Linked DNA regions of Homo sapiens: regions 2 and 3 are each linked to region 1. The links come from fine-mapping of genetic effects on gene expression. A gene starts in region 1. Each other region holds a variant in brackets. All regions are shown on one strand. Distances are from middle to middle.

What was found. PIP is the estimated chance that this variant, and not a neighbour inherited with it, causes the effect.
Region 2: its variant is the best candidate, but not a certain one, in a credible set for the expression of SLC25A17 in tibial nerve (GTEx, PIP 0.86).
Region 3: its variant is the best candidate, but not a certain one, in a credible set for the expression of SLC25A17 in prefrontal cortex (BrainSeq, PIP 0.50).

What each region holds. Positions count from the first base shown.
Region 1 is chr22:40,816,657-40,821,880 of GRCh38, reverse strand. SLC25A17 (solute carrier family 25 member 17) reads left to right here and starts at 2,535. Exons shown (of 9, transcript NM_006358.4): 1 at 2,535-2,686. The coding sequence starts at 2,633. RefSeq lists an enhancer at 4,503-4,562.
Region 2 is chr22:41,004,909-41,010,132 of GRCh38, reverse strand. No RefSeq gene overlaps it. Among named protein-coding and RNA genes, the nearest start is that of RBX1, 56 kb to the right of the region's middle. The variant T/C (reference allele first, on the strand shown) is at 2,293.
Region 3 is chr22:40,960,192-40,965,415 of GRCh38, reverse strand. RBX1 (ring-box 1) reads right to left here. Exons shown (of 5, transcript NM_014248.4): 3 at 1,299-1,369. Among named protein-coding and RNA genes, the nearest start is that of RBX1, 11 kb to the right of the region's middle. The variant A/C (reference allele first, on the strand shown) is at 2,527.

The DNA of each region.
Region 1 (5,224 bases):
GGCGACAAGAGCAAAACTGTCTCAAAAAAAAAAAAATATATATATATATATACGTATATGTGTGTATATATATATATATATATATATACGTATATATACGTATATATATATACGTATATATATATATATACGTGTATATATATATGTATGTATGTGTGTGTCTCGAACATCACAGCTTCATAGTTCCAGTTAATAACTGATGTAGCTATGCAGTGTCTACGTTTTTCAGTGCATACTGATTATATGAAAATGACTTTGGCTGGGTGCAGTGCTCACACCTCTAATTTGAGCACTTTGGGAGGCCGAGGTGTGTGGATCACCTGAGGTCAGGAGTTCGAGACCAGCCTGGCCAACATGGTGAAACCCTGTCTCCACTAAAAATACAAAAATGAGCCAGGTATGGGGGCGTGCACCTGTAGTCCCAGCTACTCGGGAGGCTGAGGCAGGAGAATCACTTGAACCCGGGAGATGGAGGCTAACATGAGTCAAGATCGCGTCACTGCACTCCAGCCTAGGTGACAGAGCGATACTCCGTCTCAAAAAAAAAAAAAAAAATACTGTTTTCAGTATGTCAGTCTTCAGTTGATCATGCTGGGCGCTGTGGCTCACACCTGTAATCCCAGCACTTTGGGAGGCCGAGGCGGGCGGACCACGAGGTCAAGAGATTTGAGACCATCCTGACCAACATGATGAAACCCCGTCTCTACTAAAAATACAAAAATTAGCTGGGCGTGGTAGCGCATGCCTGTAATCCCAGCTACTCGAGAGGCTGAGGTAGGAGAATCACTTGAACCCGGGAGGCGGAGGTTGCAGTGAGCCAAGCCTGGGCCACAAGAGTGAAACTCCATCTGAAAAAAAAAAAAAAGGTTGCAAGGCCCGGTACAGTGGCTCATGCCTGTAATACGAGCACTTTGGGTGGCTGAAGCAGGTGGATCACTTGAGCCCAGGAGTACAAGACCAGCCTGGACAACGCAGAGAAACACTGTCTCAGGTTTAAAAAAAAAAAAAAGCTGATCAAAATGTTTTTGGTATGTAAGATACAAAAACGTCAAAACAAAGTATTAACAATGTTTTCATAACTATGATGCATAATCCAGTATATTCTTGACAGCAAGCTCCCAATTTGATCAGGAGTCAATGAGAACTGAGTTCTCAAGTTTTACAGCCAACTAGTTTCTATGTTCCCATGCCAAAATAATCTTTTTTTTTTTTTTTTTAGGAGTCTCACTCTGTCCCAGGCTAGAGTGCAGTGGTGCAATCTTGGCTCACTGCAACCTTTGCTTCCTGGGTTCAAGCGATTCTCCTGCCTCAGCCTCCCTAGTAGCTGCAGTTTCAACATTGTAATTTCTACAAGGCGCGTGCCACCATGTCCGGCTAATTTTTTCTATTTTTAATAGAGACAGGGTTTTGCCATATGGGCCAGGCTTGTCTCAAACTTCTGACCTCAAGTGATCTGCCCGCTACGGCCTCCCAAAGTGCTAGGATTACAGGCCTGAGCCGCTGCGCCCAGCCCAAAATCATCTTCGCTTCACTTTTGGTCCTTCACTTTCACGTCATGATTCTATGGCGTGATGGGAATGTTCCTGGAAGCAGTATCTTCTGCAAATTTTGTGAAAACGGCCAGGTTAAACTTTGTTAGACCCCTCTCCCAGGGATTAAGTGTGATGATGGGCATAAAACACTAAGCCTGGCATGTAGTCAGCACTGAGGAGTTATCACGAGGATATTCTAAAAGGAAACATGGTAAAGACAAGTGGTGATGGTGTCTCAGGAAAGAATCCCTGAGTCCCTGAGGAGCATCCTGAAGCAGAATCTCACAGTATGACAGGTTAAAGCTGAATGTGGCTGCTTTAGTTTTGTGTAATTTTGTTAGTCACTTTGCAACATGGAAAAAAATTTTTTTCCTTCAGTATTTTATGAAGTACTACTACATAAATTGGCTTTCGTAATCCTCACAGCAGATGGGGATTGTTGGTACTAGTACATTGTCATTTCACAGAGGAAACCCAAGAGGTTAAATGACTTCCATAGTTGCCAACTAGGGGGAGGCTCCCACTCGCGTCTTGTATTTTGGGCTCCTGATGCTCAACATCTCTTCCCACCACACTCAAGGGTTTTTCTGGAGGAAGAAGTTTCCAAGTCCACAAGTGAGTTTTTTTCCTCTTGGCCAAAATGTGACTTTCAGAATAGAAAAGAGCTCAGGCGCAGAGAAACAGGGAGACTGGAGTCTCATTGAGTTTCCCCATCTTTGTCACCAGAGTAAAAGAAGGCCATTAAGACTTCTGAGATGGAGGAACTGGTCAGGGCCCGGGAACGCCAGAGAACGTCGGAGGAACCGGGAGCCGGGTACCTGGTGTCAGGCCGCCTTGCGCCTTGGAGCCCAGCCCCGCGAACACCTCGCTGTCCCGCCCCGCGCCCACAGGGGCCAATCAGCGTTCAGGGGCGTTCTTAGCCGCCCCCCCCCCCCCGCTTTCCCGCCCCGCGACCCGGAAGTGGTTCTAGGGCAGGCGGGCGGGTTTGAGAGGGCGGGGATTGCGACTCTCACACCCTGAGCTCCGGTGCTCCTTTCCTAACTCCACTGGCTGCGGCATCTGTGGGAAAAGTGTGGCTGGGTCTTCGAGGAGCCGCACCAATGGCTTCCGTGCTGTCCTACGAAAGCCTGGTCCACGCCGTGGCCGGAGCCGTGGTGAGACGGGGTCTTTACGCCCGGGCCGCAACGGGTTATAAGGCTTCTCGGGGGCCAGTCCCGGGATATGCCTGAGGGATGGGTCTGAGAGGGAGGTAGTGTGGGTTGGGGTCCACTGTCATGACTGTGGGGCAGAGAGGAATGGGCCATTGGCGGAAAGTTGTTGGAGGAATTCGGGGTAAGGGCCGAGACTCCGCCACCTCCTGGTCTCCTAGAGACTGCGGGGTAGAGAGCCGTGTTCACACGTGCCCGCTCAGGGTCCGCATCTTTGCCGTGGGAAGTTTAAGGTCAGGCTACCACCGCACACTCACACACTTTGCTTTACTGGCCCGGAGGAGAACGTAGGTGTGAAGCCGTGTTGCTTAGTCACATGCTTCCCTACAGCCTGTCTTCACGCTTGCCGCGGGCAAGTGGCAATACCTAGTAGGATAGCTCTGGGCACCGTTATTGGCAGGAGAAGATAGATCCTTTTTTTTTTTTTTTTTTTTCCGGACAGGGTCTTGCTCTGTTGCCCAAGCTGGAGTGCAGTGGCGCGATCACGACTCACTGCAGCCTCGATCTCCCGGGCTCCAGCGATCCGCCCACCTCAGCTTCCTGAGTAGCTGGGACTGCAGGTGTGAGCCACCACACCCGGCTACATTTTTAAAAAAAATTTTTGGGGTCTGGCAGTGTTGCCCAGGCTGGTCTCGAATTCCTGGCCTCAAACGATCCTCTCGATTTGGCGTCCTAAACTGCTGGCATGAGCCACTGTGCCTGGCTTTTTTTTCTTTCTTTCTAAATCAAGATCTGGGTTCCTGTCTACCACAAGTGTGGTTTGTTATGAGGTATACGCTTGATTCTTGGGCTTCTGGTGTCTAGGTTCCACTTGACACTTCCCCTCTCCCCTCTTTTCCTTAAAACTTTCCACTTTTGGCTTGGGTGACTCCTCTTGTGGTTCTTTTATCTCTTTGACTGCCTTTTCTCATATTCTTCACCAGTTGTTAGCACACACCTTTAGCTGTTAAAATCACTGTGACTTCAGAGGAACATCACTGAATCCTCTGTTTAGCCTCCAGAAACTTCACTGAGAGCTCACCTTCTCTGTAGACTAATCTGGATTTAACCCTAACTCCATCATTTGTTAGCTAGATGCCCTGTAAACCTTACTTTCTTAATCTGTAAAGTGGGGGAAGTGATACCTACCTCACAGAGTTTAGAGAATTAAGTGACACAGCATTTCATGAAAATGCCTAATTCAGGAAGCCTGGTTCATTCAGTTCAGCCAGAAGAGCCTTTCAGCCAGCATGAAGGCTGAGATGGACGCTTGCGTGACTTGCTTTAAGATGGGCATGGAGGCCTGTGTTTCCGGAGTGGAGGGAACAAAGAGGCAAATAGGTTTCAGGGGGCCAAATTGTGTGAGACTTTCACTCTGGCTAGCTGTTGAACTTGCTGATTTACCTTTAAACGTGATCACCCTGGCTGCTGTGTTGAGAGTAGAATGTAAGGGAACAGGGGACAAGCAATTATCAGGCGAGAGATGATGGTGACTTGGATCCGGGTGGTAGCAGACATGGTAGAAGTGATCATTGACCTGGAATATATTTATAAAATGAGGGTTGGTTGACTCCAAGAGTTTTTGGCTTCAGTAACTGGAGGGATGGTGGTATTTACTGGGATGGCAGAGGCTGTGAAGGAGAAGGTTTTGGGGGAAATGATAAATTTGGCTTTGGTTTTGGAGGAGTTTGAAATGCCTAAGAGTAGTCGTGAGACTAGATGAGCTCACTAGGGAAGTGTGTATGGACTGACAGAAGAATCTCAATGACTGAGTCTTGGAGCAGGCTAACCATTAAGAGGCCGAGAAAATAAGATTGCACCAGCAAAGGAGACAAACGAAGGATGGATCAGTACTGCAGGAGGGAAGCTAAGAACTAAGAGTGAAAGCCACGTGAAGAAAGTGTTTCTGGGGAAGGAAGTAGACCAGCTGGGTCAGATGCTGCTGATGGGTCAAGTAAGGTGAGGACTGAGAAATAACTGAGAATTTATCATGTTGATAAATCCAGTGGTTAATTGAAAAGACCAGTTTTGGTGGAGTGGTGGGGGAAATAGTTGGAGTGCATCTAAGAGAAGAAAGTGAGAAGATGGGAAATGTTTTTCTCTTCCTTCTTGCAATAAATGTTCATTAAACACCTTTATTGAGTGCATTCTATGTGCCACACGCTGTTCTAGGTGCAAGGAGTACAGTAGAGAAGGTCTTTTTCTTCATGAACTATGCATTGCAATAGGGGAGTCAGACAATAAATGAATAGGCTGGGTGCGGTGGCTCACGCCTGTAATCCCAGCACTTTGGGAGGCTGAGGCAGGCGGATCGCCTGAGGTCAGGAGTTCGAGGCCAGCCTGGCTAACATGGTGAAACCCCGTCTCTACTAAAAATACAAAAAGTAGCCAGGCATGGTGGTGGGCGCCTGTAATCCCAGCTACTCGGGAGGCTGAAGCAGGAGAATCACTTGAACCTGGGAGGCAGAGGTTGCAGTGAGCCAAAATTGTGCCATTGCACTCCAG
Region 2 (5,224 bases), 190 kb before region 1:
GGTTCCACCATGTTGACCAGGCTGGTCTCGAACTCCTGACCACAAGTGATCCACCTCCATTGGCTTCCCAAAGTGCTGGGATTACAGGCATGAGCCACTGCGCCTGGCCTCTTAATGAATTTTTAAGAAACGAAGCTCCATGGCCGTTGAAGATCAGTTGGCCTGTTAGTTTCCCCTTTTCCTTGGGAGGCACGGGAGGAAAGGGTTAAAGGAGGTGAACTGACAGCAGGGCAGTGAGGAGGAGGGACAGAGTTTGGGGTTGAGGGGTGGGGAGAAAAGGGAGCTGGAGGAGCAAGGGTGGGCCCCTTCCTACCCTACTGCTGGGCTCTGCTCAGCCCCAGGTCAGCCTCTGGGCTGGTGTCTTCACCATGTGGCAATGGTAATTGCTCCAGACCCAGCAGCTCCCCATTGCCCACACTTCCTCCTGTTCTTCCCGCCCCTCAGCCTTTGCGAGGTCAGCTTGGCCCTGAGCCTGTGCCCACACCCATGGCCTCCCTCTTTCAGGCCTGTTTACCTGGTGAGGTGCAGGATGCTGCAGGGTGTGCACCTGTCAGCCTCATTCAGCTGAGGAGCAGGCAGGGGTTAGAGCATGGGAAGCTGCTTTTTCTGCTGTAAATGAGGAACATTGGTTCATATGGACTCCAGGGATGAATTGCTGGGGAAAGGGAGCTCCCTTTGTTCAGTTTACAAAACCCCCCGTGGGAGCCAGATGTGATGGCTCATGCATGTAACCCTAGCACTTTGGGAGGCTGAGGTGGAAGATGGCTTGAGCCCAGGAGTGTGAGGTCAGCCTGAGCAACATAGGCAGGATTGCTTGAGCCTGGGGCATAGAGGCTCAAAAAAAAAAAAAAAAAAAAAACCAACAAAACAAAACTTTAGCCAGGCGTGGAGGTGCATGCCTATAGTCTCAGCTACTTGGGAGGCTGAGGCAAGAGAAACACTTGAGCCCAGGAGTTTGAGGCTGCAGTGAGCTGTGATGGTACCACTATACTCCAGCCTGGGTAACAGAGCAAGACCCTGTCTCTTAAAAAATAGAAAACAAAAATGAAGCCCACAGGGACACTTATTGCCCAGGCCGTGGGACCAGAGCTCCTCTGGGGCAAGGTCCGTGACCCATGGATGTATGGGTCCCCAGTGTGCAGGACAGGGCCTGGCATTTTGGGTGGCGGAGGGATGGAGGAGGCTTGGGAAATATTTACTAAATGAACAAGTGAATGAATGAGTGAGCCATGTTACATGCAGCTACAGTGAACACTGAGCGAAGTAGAAAAGACCAAGAGTTCCAAAGGCAACTAAAAACCTGGGCTCAAATCCTTCCCTGCTATGGAGCTAGCTCTGCTGATTTGGGCAAGTCGCTTAAAACACCATCTGCCTTAGGTTCCCTAACTGTAAAATGGAAGCAAAAAAATTCCACCTTGCTTATGAGGTTTACATGGAATGCTTGTAGAGCATGTGGGTAATGGGCTTAATAAATGGTCACCAGTATTTATTTTTTAATTAAAAAATATTTTGTGATACTTTATTTATGTATTTATTATTTATTTATTTTTTGAGACAGTGTCTCGCTCTGTCACCCAGGCTGGAATGCAGTGGCATGATGTTGGCTCACTGCAAGCTCCGCCTCAAGGGTTGACACCATTCTCCTGCCTCAGCCTCCCCAGCAGCTGGAACTATAGGCGCCCACCACCACACTCGGCTAATTTTTTTTTGTTTTTAGTAGAGATGGGTTTTCACCGTGATAGCCAGGATGGTCTCAATCTCCTGACCTCGTGATCTGCCTGCCTCGGCCTCCCAAAGTGCTGGGATTATAGGCATGAGCCACCACACCCGGCCAACATCATTGTTAGTAGTATTGTTTACTAATTCAACAAATATGTATCAAGTGCCTACTACATGCAGGGTCCTTTCTAGGCACTGGACAAAACATGCCAAGACCCTTCTGTCATGGGGTTTCTGTTCAGGCCAGGGAGAGGGACAATAAACACAAGGAAAGAGTAAATGAAGTATCATTGGAAGGTGAAAGATGTTATGGAAGAAGAAAATAGAGTGGGGGAGGGGATGCAGAGGAAGAAGGATGGATTGGGTTGTCATTTTAAATAGGGTGGCCCTATTAGAAGGCCGCATTAGAAAGTGACACTGGGGTCAGGCATGGTGGCTCATGCCTGCAGTCCCAGCACTTTGGGAGACCAAGGCGGGTGGATCACTTGAGGTCAGGAGTTCGAGACCAGCCTGGCTAACATGGTGAAACCCCATCACTACTAAAAATACAAAAATTAGCTGGGTGTGGTGGTG[T/C]GCACCTGTAGTCCCAGCTACTCAGGAGGCTGAGGCAAGAGAATCGCTTGAGTCCAGGAGGTTGCAATGAGTGGAAATTGCACCAAGCACTCCAGCCTGGTGACAGAATGAGACTCTATCTCAAAAAATTAATAATAGGCTGGGCACGGTGGCTCACATGGCATCCCAGCACTTTGGGAGGCAAAGGCAGGCAGATCACCTGAGATTGGGAGTTTGAGACCATTCTGACCAACAAGGAGAAACCCCGTCTCTACTAAAAATACAAAATTAGCCGAGTGTGGTGGCGCACACCTGTAATCCCAGCTACTCAGGAGGCTGAGGCAGGAGAATTGCTTGAACCCAGGAGGCGGAGGTTGTGGTGAGCCAAGATCATGCCACTGCACTCCAGCCTGGGTGACAAGAGCGAAACTCCATCTCAAAAATAAAAATAAAAATAAATAAAAAAATAAAAAGAAAGACTGGCAGGAAGGGAGACAGATGTGCCATATCTCAGGAAAGGGTATTTGCACAGAAGGAGCAGGCCAGTGTGAAATTCTTTAGGTGGGGTGGATGGAGTGGAGTGAGCTAGGGAAAGTGACAGGGATGAAGTCAGAGGTAAAGTGGCCATATCACGTAGGTCATCACCAGCCAAGTAAAGAGAAGCTACGGCAGGGCTTTGAGCATAGAAACAACACAATCTAACTTACATTTTGGGTTATTAGTCTTTTCTTCTTTTATTATTTTCAGAGACAGGGTATTGCTCTGTCACCCAGGCTGGGTTAGCCTTTAAAATGTAACTCAGGGGCTGGGCATGGTGGCTTATGCCTGTAATCCCAACACTTTGGGAGGCTGAGGTGGGAGGATTGCTTGAGGCCAGGAGTTCAAGACCAGCCTGGGCAACACAGCGAGACCCTCATCTCTACAAAAAATTTTTTGAAAATTAGCTGGGCATGGTAATGTGCACCTGTAGTCCCAGCTATTGGGGAATTTGAAGTGGGTGGATCACCTGAGTCCAGGAGTTTAATGCTGCAGTGAGCTATGATTGTGCCACTGTACTCTAGCCTGGGTGACAGAGTGAGACCCTGTGTCAAAAAAATAATAATAATAATAATTTTTTTTGAGATGGAATCTTGCTCTGTCACCCAGGCTGGAGTGCAGTGGTGCAATCTTGGTTCACTGAAACCTCTGCCTCCCAGGCCCAAGCAATTCTTGTGCCTCAGCCTCCCAAGTAGCTGGGATTACAGGAGCATGCCACCATGCCTGGTTAATTTTTTATATTTTTTGGAGAGAAGGGTTTCGCTATGTTGGCCAGGCTGGTCTTGAACTCCTGGCCTCAAGTGATCCACCTGCTTTGGCCACCCAAAGAGCTGGGATTACAGGCATGAGCCACCACTCCCAGCTTTAGATTATTAAAATAAAGGCTAACCCCAGCTGCCTGGATGAGCATAGACTGTAAAGAACAAGGGGAGAGAGGGGCAGAGAGAATTCAGTACTAGGTGCCAAGGGGGTAGCAGTGGTGGTGACAAATGGTTGGATTCTGGATACACACACACACACACACACACACACACACACACACACACACACACATATATATATATTTTTTTTTGAGACAAGGTCTCAGTCTGTAACCCAGGCTAGAGTGCAGTGGTGCAATCATAGCTCACTGCAGCCTGGAACTCCTGGGCTCAAGTAAGCCTCCTGCCTCCTAAGGTTCCTGCTCAAGCGAGGCTCCTGAGGCTCCTGCCTCAGCTTCCGGATTCTGGATATATATATATAGCTTTATTTCCTGAGGGGTTGGATGTGTAGTATGAGAGAGAGCCAAGGATGGCTGGAGGGTTTTGAGTCTGAAAAATGTAAGGAATGAGTTGCCACCAACTGAAACGGGCTAGGCTGGACATGAAAGAGGTTTGGGAGTGGGGTAATCAGGGGCTCAATTTTTTTCTGTTTTTGTTGTTGTTGTTGTTTGTTTTATTGAGACAGTCTCTCTCTGTCACTGCCCAGGCTGGAGTGCAGCGGTGTGATCTCGGCTCACTGTAATCTCTGCCTCCCAAATTCAAGTGATTCTCTTGCTTCAGCCTCCCGAGTATCTGGGATTACAGGTGTGTGCTACCAGGTCCAGCTAATTTTTTTATTTTTTGGTAGAGACGGGATTTCACTGTGTTGGCCAGGCTGGTCTTGAACTCCTGGCCTCAAGTGATCCATCTGTTTTTGCCTCCCAAAGTGCTGGGATTACAAGTGTGAGCCACTGTGCCTGGCCTGGAGCTCAATTTTGGATGTATTAAGATACAGATGCTGGCCAGGTGTGGTGGCTCACATCTGTAATCCCAGCACTCTGGGAGGCTGAGGTGGGTGGATCTTGAGGTTAGGAGTTTGAGACCAGCCTGGCCAAGATGGTGAAACCCCATCTCTACTAAAAATATAAACATTAGCCAGGCGTGGTTGTGGGCGCCTGTAATCCCAGCTACTTGGGAGGCTGAGGCAGGAGAATTGCTTAAACCCAGGAGGTGGAGGTTGCAGTGAGCCGAGATCGTGCCACTGCACTCTAGCCTGGGCAACAGAGCAAGACTCCATCTTAAAAAAAAAAAGAGATATAGATCCCAGTTAAACATGCACGTGAATATATCTAACGGGCAGTTGGATATTCAGGATCAGGCCGTGGAGTTGTTAGCACTGCTACGACTATTTTTTCTCCACTGTCATACTTGATCCTCACACCAGCCCAAGAGTAAGGCAGGGCAGGGATGATTCTCCCAGCTTGAGGGAATTAAAATTCTATGGAGAGTATATAACCAAAATAATTGAAAACAGGTATTCAAATACTTGTAGGCTGGGCATGGTGGCTCATGCCTGTAATCCTAGCACTTTGGGAGGCCGAGGCAGATGGATCACCTGAGGTCAGGAGTTGGAGACCAGCCTGGCCAACATGGTGAAATCCCCCTCTCTACTAAAA
Region 3 (5,224 bases), 140 kb before region 1:
CCAGTGTAGGTAGGAAAAAGAGTTGCAACCCAACAGGAAAAACTACTGAGAACACCATCTACACAGTAACACCTCTACCTCAAATTTGTATTTATTTAGATTTTTTTTTTTTTGAGACAGAGTCTCACTTTGTCACCCAGGCTGGAGTGCAGTGGTGTGGTCTCGGCTCACTACAAGCTCCACCTCCCAGGTTCACGCCATTCTCCTGCCTCAGCCTCCCGAGTAGCTGGGACTACAGGCGCCTGCCACCACACCCGGCTAATTTTTTGTATTTTTAGTAGAGACGGGGTTTCACTGTGTTAGCCAGGATGTCTCCATCTGCTGACCTCATGATGCACCCGCCTCGGCCTCCCAGAGTGCTGGGATTACAGGCGTGAGCCACCGCGTCCGGCCTATTTAGATTTTTTTTAACAAGCACTTGTGCTTACTATGTGCCGGGAGTTGTTTAATCACATTTTAACATAAATCATCTAATCCGGATTACAATTTTATGTGGTCCACTATCAGCCCCATTTTATGAGGGAACCCAGGATTGGAGACGTTAAATGCCTTGCCTAACGTCACTTAGCAAGTAAGTCACAAAGACAGGGAATGGTGGTCTGACTCTAGAATCTCTTATCCCTGTGTCATGCTGGGAACTGTGAGTATTCTGTCCCCATGACACAGGAGGCCCTGACAAGACAATTTTAGCTCATGTGACTGGGACTTTACAGCTTAAAGAATGAATTTTTAACACATGCTAGAACTAACATATTTGATATTTGTTATCCTTCACAGCTGTCACACTCTTGGAAGGCCATTCAGTCCAATAAAGCTACACAAAACATTTCTGGCATAAGCCATGTTAAAAAATAATCTTATCTCAGTACATACGCCACACTTAAAACACACATACACAGAGACTTCAACACTCAATTTACTCATCAAACTTAGTTCCATTAGACACCTGGTCTTTAAAAAAGCCTGTTTCAAAGGTACAAAGTTCTACCACGAGAATATTCCAAAGGGTGCATGTAGGTTTTGAAGGCAATTCCCATAGATGAAGCCCCAAAATACTGCTAACAAAATTGGGTCCACTTTATAATTAAGACAAATAAGTGCCTCTTTGCAGTAACTGTAATTTTTACCCTGTAACAGGTGAATAGTATTATGATTTAAAATCTTTTTTACTATTTGTATACCTTTTGGGAGAAAGGTGGACTAGTCATTTTTTTCCCTAGTTATTTTCAAGACTAGCAAAGCAGGAAAAGTGGAAATATGTTTACAAGCCATGCTGACAGGTAAAGATGCTTCCTTACGTTACAGACTCCCCATGCGACAGTACACTCTTCTGAAGTAGCGGACGCCTGGTTAGCTTGACATTCTATGCCTGTGGGAACAAGAGCAACAGGATCACTGGACCTTGGGAGCAGCAACGTTTCAATCTATAGCAGCCAAAACAATTCTCAAGTGGTTAATTAGCCATAATTGTTTTTTAATGAATGTGGGAAAGGAAGAACAGAGAAGACAGAGATAACAGTATGCTTTCTGACGATTTCCTATCCTTGTTTAAAAAGAGTAACAAATGGGAAATGCACATCTCACTCCCGTTGCCCAGGCTACAGTGCAGTGGCATGAGCATGGCTCACTGCAGCCTTGACTTCCTGGGCTTAGGTGATTCTCCCTCAGCCTCCTGAGTAGCTGGGACTACAGGTGCGTGCCACCACACCAGCTAATTGTTTGTATTTTTTGTAGAGATGGAGTTTCACCATGTTGCCTAGACTGAGTTTTTTTCCTTTTGAGATGGAGTTTCCCTCTTGTTGCCCAGGCTGAAGTGCAATAGCACAATCTTGGCTCACTGCAACCTCCGCCCCCCGAGTTCAAGCGATTCTCGTGTCTCAGACTCCCAAGTAGCTGGAATTAACAGGCGCACACCACCATGCCTGGCTAATTTTGTATTTTTAGTAGAGATGGGGTTTCTCCGTGTTGGCCAGGCTGGTCTCAAACTCCTGACCTCAGGTGATCCGCCCACCTCAGCCTCCCAAAGTGCTGGGATTACAGGCATGAGCCACCGCACCTGGCCTGCAATGAGTTCTTGACTGAGATCAAGATCTGATGGGTAAAGCACAACTGGGGATAAATATTCACAGAACAAGAATTACTAATGCATAACTTGCTTTCTCTGATCATAGTAACTAAATGGAGTCTCCCTTCTGAAGAATAAAAAGCTTCAGGAGAAACTATTTAATAGGGGAGAATTACTTCAAACTACTACAGGTGAAAAATAGTAAAACTATGGCTGGGCGTGGTGGCTCACACCTGTAATCCCAGCACTTTGGGAGGCTGAGGCAGGCGGATCACGAGGTCAGGAGTTCAAGACTAGCCCACCCAACATGGTGAAACCTGTCTCTACTAAAAATATGAAAAACTAGCCAGGAGTAGGCCAGGCGCGATGGCTCACTCCTGTAATCTCAGCACTTTGGGAGGCCGAGGCAGGCACATCATGAGGTCAGGACTTTGAGACCATCCTGGCCAACATAGTGAAAC[A/C]CCGTCTCTACTAAAAAAAAAAAAAAAAAATTAGCTGGGCGTGGTGGCGGGTGCCTGTAGTCCCAGCTACTCAGGAGGCTGAGGCAGGAGAATTGCTTGAACCCAGGAGGCGGAGCTTGCAGTGAGCCAAGATTGCATCACTGCACTGGAGCCTGGGCGACAGTGCAAGACTCCGTCTCAAAAAATAAATAAATAAAAATAAAAATAAAAAAATAAATAAAAATTAGCCAGGTGTGTGTGGTGGTGGGCGCCTGTAGTCCCAGCTATTCAGGAGGCTGAGGCAGAAGAATTGCTTGAATCCGGGAGGCAGAGGTTGCAGTGAGCCAAGACTGCGCCACTGCACTCCAGCCTGGGTGACACAGTGAGACTCTGTCTCAAAAAAAAAAAAAAAAAAGTAAAACTATTAAAAAAAACAAAACTAGATGTTAATGGGCATGTGTGGTTTTAGGGGAAGAGATACCATGATAATACCTTTTTCTTTTCACTCTTCGAAAATGTGGAAAGTGGGCCGGGCATGTTGGCTCACACCTGTAATGCCAGCACTATGAGAGGCTGAAGTCAGGAATTCGAGACCAGCCTGACCAACACGGCAAAACCCAATCTCTACTAAAAATACAAAAGTTAGTGGTGCATGGTGGTACATGTCTGCAATCCCAGTTACTTGGGAGGCTGAGGTAGGAGAATTGCTTGAACCCAAGGGGCAGAGGTTGCAGTGAGCCGAAGTTGCACACCACTGTACTCCAGCCTGGGCAAAAGAGCAAGACTCTGTCTCAAAAAACAAACAAACAAACAAACAAACCATAAAAGGCTGGGAGTAGTGGCTCACGCCTGCAATCCCAATGCTTTGGAAGGACGAGGGTGACGGATCACTTGATGTCAGGGTTCGAGACCAGCCTGGCAAACATGGCAAAACCCCCTCTCTACTAAGAAGGCAAAAATTAGCCAGGCATGGTGGTGGATATCTGTAATCCCAGCTACTCAGGAGGCTGAGGCAGGAGAATCACTTGAACCCAGGAGGCAGAGGCTGCAGTGAGCCGAGATCACACCACTGCATTCCAGCCTGGGTGACAGAGTAAGGCTGACACACACACACACACACACAGAGAAAGCAAAGCACTTACTTTTGCTAGCCAGATTCACACTACAGAGTAACTTGGTTTGCCAACTGATAAAAATAAAGAATTGGGGCCAGGCCCGGTGGCTCACGCCTATAATCCCAGCGTTTTGGGAGGCTGAGGCGGGTGGGTCACGAGGTCAGGAGATCGAGCCCATCCTGGCTAACATGGTTTCTACTAAAAATATTTAAAAATTAGCCAGGCGTGGTGGCGGGCACCTGTAGTCCCAGCTACTCAGGAGGCTGAGGCAGGAGAATGGTGTGAACCCGGGAGGCGGAGCTTGCAGTGAGCCAAGATCGCACCACTGCGCTCCAGCCTGGGTAACAGAGCGAGACTCTGTCTCAAAAAATAAAAATAAAAATAATAAAATAAAATAAAAATAAAGAATTGGGTCAGGCACAGTCGCTCACACCTGTAATCCCAGCACTTTGGGAGGCCAAGGCAGCAGGATCACTTTAGCCCACGAATTCAAGACCAGGCTGGGCAACACAGCAACATCTCATCTCTAGAAATAAAAAAATTAGCCAGTTGTGGTAGCACATGCCTGTGGTCCCAGCTACTAAGGAGGCTGAGGCAGGAGAATGGCTTGAGCACAGGCGGTTGAGGCTGCAGTGCACCATGATCGTACCACTGCACTCCAGCCTAGGTGACAGAGCAAAACCTTGTTATCAAAAAAAAAAAAAAAAAAAAAAAGGCCAGGCACGGTGGCTCGGCCGGGCGTGGTGGCTCATGTCTGTAATCCCAGCACTTTGGGAAGTCGAGGCAGGCAGATCATCTGAGGTCAGGAGTTCGAGACCAGCCTGGCCAACATGGCGAAACTCTGTCTCTTCTAAAAATACAAACAATTAACCGGGTGTGGTGGGTGGCGCATGCCTATAATCCCAGCTACTAGAGAGGCTGAGGCAGGAGAATCGCTGGAACCTGGCAGGCAGAGGTTGCAGTGAGCTGGGATCGCGCCACTGCACTCTACCCTGGGTGAAAGAGCGAGACTCCATCTTAAAAACAAACAAAAAAGGGATCTAGGGTCTATGCAGTGTATTTAAGAACTTATTGAAACTGGAATACACTACTATAATTAAAAGAATGGCAGAGAAAAGTAAATATGATGTCCTTTAAGCTGGATCCTCTAACTTAGAGGAAGACTATGTATTATAAAATTAGCTAAATAAGAGCCACAATTATTAAAGTGAAAATCAAAACTGTTTCAAGGTACATTATCGTGTTTAAATTTGATCTGGGTCTTTCTTTTGACTGTGGCCATGGCACTACTAACCTAAAGAACCCTTCAGGCTCCCTTCACGGTAGAGTCCTTTCCTTCGTCCCTGCCATACCTGGAACATGCTCCTCCTCCTATCACTCTCAAGTCCTCCCCACCCTTCAAGACCCAGCTTAAATCCCTACTTCTTGACTGAAGCTTTTCCTGACTCTTCCACCCTGAGTCATTTTCCTCTCCTTCAGGCACTCTTAACACATCAATTATGAGTATCTCTTTACATACCTGACCTCCCTCCTTCCCCCTCAACTCAAAGCTCCCACAGAGCAGGGACCTGGTCTTTCTATGCCAAGTGCAAATTAGGCTCTTG